2 separate regions of the Homo sapiens genome follow, and region 2 is linked to region 1. Evidence: fine-mapped expression QTL. Tissue or cell type: whole blood. Region 1 holds a variant in brackets; the other region holds the start of a gene. All regions are shown on one strand. Distances are between the middles of the regions.

The links. PIP is the estimated chance that this variant, and not a neighbour inherited with it, causes the effect.
Region 2: it holds the start of ZNF624, and the variant in region 1 is fine-mapped to the expression of ZNF624 in whole blood (INTERVAL, PIP above 0.99).

The regions. Positions count from the first base shown.
Region 1 is chr17:16,962,218-16,964,900 of GRCh38, reverse strand. The region is part of intron 1 of TNFRSF13B (TNF receptor superfamily member 13B); the gene reads left to right. Among named protein-coding and RNA genes, the nearest start is that of TNFRSF13B, 8.6 kb to the left of the region's middle. RefSeq lists an enhancer at 69-338. The variant C/T (reference allele first, on the strand shown) is at 1,104.
Region 2 is chr17:16,652,455-16,655,137 of GRCh38, reverse strand. It overlaps ZNF624 (zinc finger protein 624), which reads left to right and starts at 1,288. Exons shown (of 6, transcript NM_020787.4): 1 at 1,288-1,374. LOC124903934 (a long non-coding RNA gene) reads right to left here and starts at 1,246. Exons shown (of 4, transcript XR_007065639.1): 1 at 1,168-1,246; 2 at 1-1,054. RefSeq lists a silencer at 1,379-1,578 and an enhancer at 1,534-2,044.

The DNA.
Region 1 (2,683 bases):
AGGAAAACTGAGGTTGTGCACAGCCAGAGTCCTTCCCAAGATGACTCAGCCGTGCTTTCCCCACCACGGGCACTTCACTCCGGCACACTCTGGGTCACTGAACCATGGCGAATCCGTTTTCAACATGAGCTGGCAGGAGGTGAAAATTATGATGGGTAGAAGTGGCTGTCCCCATTTCACAAACAGAAAACTGAGAAGGTGACTTGACCAGTTTTCCCAGGACCTAACTAAGTTCTTCTTCCTTTAGAACCAGCATGGGAGGCCGGGCGTGGTGGCTCACGCCTGTAATCCCAGCACTTTGGGAGGCTGAGGCAGGCAGATCACCTGAGGTCAGGGGTTCGAGATCAGCCTGACCAACATGGAGAAACCTCATCTACTAAAAATACAAAAATTAGCCGGGTGTAGGGGCACACACCTGTAATCCCAGCTACTTGGGAGGCTGAGGCAGAAGAATTGCTTGAACTCGGAAGGCAGAGGTTGCAGTGAGCCGAGATCTCACCACTGCACTCCAGCCTGGGGAACAAGAGTGAAACTCCATCTCAAAAAAAAAAAAAAAAAAAAAAGGCATGGAGATGGTGGACTCTCAACCTTGAACATCTCTGAAGGTTCATTCTGAGTGGAGGTGGGAGCAGGCAGGGGGGTCTTAGAGCCATTTTCAGTATTTCAAAATAGCCCGGGGAAAAAGCATATACAGCTCACAGAAACCAAAAGCCATCTTTTCCTCCTCCTCCTTCCTTCTCTCCTTCTCTTCCCTGTCTTCCTCATCTCTCTTCTTTTTCCCTTCTTCTCCTCTTCTGCCTCCTCTTCCTCATCCTTCTTTTCCTCCTCCATTTCTTCCTCCTTCTCCTTCCCAGTTAGCAGAAGCCAGGTTGTAAGGTCACCATCCATTCCCATGCACATCCCTCAGGTCTCAGGCTGCAGCCTTATCGGGGCACACACCCTATCTCTGCACGCTGGAATCCTCTCCTGCCCCTACCCCACTGGTGAGCTCAACTCATAGCCCCCAGCCCAAGTTTGCAGTCAGTGTTTGCTTGAAAGACTGGATGAGAAAGGCCGGGCTCTGTGGCTCACGCCTGTAATCCCAGCACTTTGGGAGGCCGAGG[C/T]GGGTGGATCAGGAGGTCAGGAGATCGAGACCATCCTGGCTAACACGGTGAAACCCTGTCTCTACTAAAAATACAAAAAAATTAGCCAGGCGTGGTGGTGGGCACCTGTAGTGCCAGCTACTCTGGAGGCTGAGGCAGGAGAATGACGTGAACCCAGGAGGTGGAGCTTGCAGTGAGCCGAGATGGTGCCACTGCACTCCAGCCTGGGTGGCAGTGCCAGACTCCGTCTCGAAAAAACCAAAAAAACAAAAACAAAAACAAAAACAAAACTTGATAAGAAATTCCTCCTATCTGCCAAGCTTTTACTGTTCCTTCTCTTTCAGTCACATCTACAGGTTTTCTTGGTGAAATTGTAAAGGGCAAGAATGAGGAGCCCACCCATCGCCCCAACCCTGCTCCTTCACTCCTGCACAGACACCTCCCCACCAAGGAGGAAAAGAGGGAGTTGGCTCACGCCAACAGGAATTGGCCCCTAAAATTTTTGTTGTCTCGATCCAGGTGTAGGCCTTGTCCAGCACAGCACTCCTTATCATAAGAAATGGCAATATTAATAAGGGCAGCAGCTCAGGGGGTTGTCTTTACTAACGTGCTCAATACCATACTAGGCACCTGCCATGCATATGCTGCTCACAGTGATTCTGTGAGTAAGCAACAGCATCCTCATCTTACAGGGGAGGACGCTGGGTGTCCAAGAGCAGAAGTCGTGCCCAAGGTCACACAGCAAGGAGTACCAGCCCCATGACTCACAGCCCAGGGTTCCAAGCAGGGCTGCCCTGTGGCTTTCCCCAGGCTCATCCCCAAAGTGGCTCAGAATCTGGTCCACTCCCCCTGCTGGTCCTTGACTTGTCCATTTTAGACGCTCTGGATTGATTCCCCACTTTCTAAGGTGAGAACTTAACTTGGACGTCACTATCTGCATGCATGCAGCTTCCCCTCCCCCGGCCCCCGGTGAAGGAGGGGTGCGTTTTCAGTTGGAGTCAAGATAGACCTGCTGGCTGCCGGCTCTGCTCCAGAATGTCAACTCCTCTGCAGTTTTGTTCTTCCCCTTCTCCTTGCTCTCTCCTAGAAAGCCTGTTTTTGCCTTTGCTCACTGACAATGGTCTAATGGCTCTCACAGTGAGTAAACTCTTTTACAGAAGGAATAATTCCACATCTCCACCTTATTTGTTGACTCAGATGGCTCATTTATTTATGACAATATAAATATTGCCCACAGCTGAGCTGCTGTACATGTCCTATGATTACCTTTCTTTTCCTTTCTTTTTTTTTTCTTTCTTTTTTTTTGGGGGGGGAGACCGAGTCTCACTCTGTGGCCCAGGCTGGAGTGCAGTGGCACAATCTTAGCTCGCTGCAACCTCTGTCTCCTGGTTTCAAGTGATTCTCCTGCCTCAGCTTCTCAAGTAGCTGAGATTACAGGCATGCACCACCACACCCAGCTAATTTTTGTATTTTCAGTGAAGACAGGGTTTCACCATATTGGCCAGGCTGGTCTCGAACTCCTGACCTCAAATGATCCACCTGCCTTGGTCTCCCAAAGTGATTGGAGAACAGGCATGAGCCACCACACCTGGCCTACCTTT
Region 2 (2,683 bases), 310 kb after region 1:
CCCTAAATATTGTGTTAAACATTTTTTTTTAATAGTTTAACGAAATGTGTATGTTTCTCTAAACTTTCCTGGTGGCTTATTTTACATTCTGTTGTTTGTTGATAATGTTTTTAATTCCATCTATCATGTCCTTAAACATTTTAAATGTAATAATTTTAAATTTTTAATCAAATGAGCTCTGCCTCTGAAGTTTTGGGGGATATATTTCTGCCGTTTATTGTTTGTGCTGATTTTCAGTCACAGTGTCTTATTTTATTATTTGTTTTGTAATGTTTAAGTTTTGGACTTCTGTTTGGCTCATCTTCATCTGTGGGGAATGTGAGGGAACTGGGATCTCCAAAAGACATTTGCTTAGTTTCTAATTTCAGAGTGTATTGAATAAATATTTTGAGTAATCTTTTTCACTGGAAATTTCGTTTTATTCCAGTCCTCCTGTGAATATCCTGTTGTTTTGATTACTCTTCAATGCCACTCTCCTTAGAAGATGTACCTCATTCCGTGTGCATTTCGATATGTGGAAGTGTGTTGGGAGGTGGGGTCCCAAATTATTCATTCATTCTTCCTTCGTTTCATTCAGTATGCAAGCAGTCTCCTAAGTAGGCACTCTGAGTGATAAACTCCATGAGATGTAGTTTCTATCCTCAAAAAATACCGCCTTTGGTAGGGATAAAGTAAATAGACCTTAATATAGCTCTTGGACGAGCAGCCCTTGAATAAGTGGTCAAATAAATTTGTTGCAAATAAATACTTTCAGTCATTGTGTTTTAAGAATTATCATTTGTATGCATTGAGGAGAACTTCTACAGCTATTTGTCTTCAGAAAGGTTTTTTCTTTGTATTTCGAAGAATTTTGGCCTTAAAATTTCCAGCTTATTTTCAGACATTCATATCCATTCTACTTAATTGGCATTATAGTCATCAATTGTTGTCTCTTCCAACTCTGAGGGAATTGTCATAAAGGGAATTGTTCAGAAATATGTGTTTCCAAGCACTTGTTCACATATTTGTCTGGATCACATCTATCTGTTCTCTCGACGGCTTTCTTTAGTCGCACCTAAATGTTCCAAGACAAGGGTTGTGTCATTATTTGTATCTCTAGTGCTATTGCTTTTGACACATAGTCAAGGCTTCTCAACAGAAGTGTATCCAATTGGAATTTTTTCTCACCCTCGAAGAGCCAATTCCTTCACTAACGCAGACAAAAGGGGCGGGGGGCTCAGGCGCTGAGGATTCTGGGCACTGTAGTTCCGACGCTCCGGCTGCGCAGGCGCAATGCCCTGCCTGGAGGCCGGCACCGCCGAGCCGCCGCCATTGCTGGAAGCGTTCCCGCCCTGCTCTGCGAGTTCCCTCAGTTGTCCTCAGTTCGGCCGCCAGGTACTCGTTGTCCCGGGCGCCTGGCCTCGGTTGCCCGCCGCCCCTCCCTTGGCGCTTGGCTCCCGGCGGCGTCCGGGGCGTGGCCGTTCCCTCTAGAGCCCCTGTCCCTGAGCGGACCCGCCCACTCCTGAGAGGCGATTGGGGCTGGGCCTCCTTCCCGAGTGTGGGTTCAGTCTCCAGCTGGCCTCCCTCACAGGTAGGGCCGCGTGCCCTATGCGGCCTCCTAGTCCGGGTCCAAACCCGGGAACCCCCTCCCTGCGGGCCTGGCGGCGCTGGGGTTAAAAAGAGCCGGGCGCAGGGCGCAGGGAGTCGAGTAGGGCGGGCGGGCCCCTGACCCGACTTTCCCGGTCTTCCCAGCCCCGCGCCTTGCAGGCCCTGAGGAGGGCATACCCGAAGTGGGTAGAGGAGAGCAGTTAGGGAAAGAAGGCGAGGTTGGCAGGAGCATATCCGCTCTGGCTTCTGAACTGGCAGGGATGGAACTAGGTTCCACATCGGGGGACCTGCGCTACTCAGTAACCGAGGCAGCTTTTCCTGAAATGTCACATTTCAAATACTGTAATCACCTTTTAATCACTTGTCACTCCCTGACATGACAATGGTATTATTGCATTGGTTGGGAAATGCTGGACTGGTACATGGCGCTGAGATTCTCAGCAAAAACATGGACCCTTCATTATTTCTAAATAACTGCACTGGCCAAGGAAGCAAAACAAGTAAAGTTTCTCCTTAAGTCTCTGGATACGTTTGCAATAGTTGGAAAGACAGAGCTTGTAAATAGGGAAATTATAACTGGGGAATAGTGGCCTAGATATCTTCTGCATAATGACAAAGGGGACAGTAGAAACATATAAGGTGGCTACTGTCATGTACTAATAGCTGATTCGTTGTGCTCAAGTGACTTGCCTGTGGTCACAGTTTTACGGTAGCCAAAGCAGGGTTAGAACCTGGGGATGTGGCCAGCCACTCTGGGATTTTATTCCTATTCCACACTCCTATGTATAGGTAGATACTTCTTCTTGTCTGCTTGGAGAGTACAGAAAAGCAGAAAGAAGGGTAAACATCACAGCCCCAGGTCTCAGAGGTCTCAGTAGAGTTTTGGGTTACTCAGTCTTTTTTTCTATGCATTACATTTGCACAATTGAGATCAAGCTGAATATATTAAATGTTAAATATTGTTTATTCTAATTATAAAATAAAACAAGGGATTTATTGTAGTTTGGTTGTTAAACATATGTTACGAGCATAATCTACATAATCTACATAAAGTATTGCCAAAGAGTTTATTAATATTTACAAATATTTTAAAAAT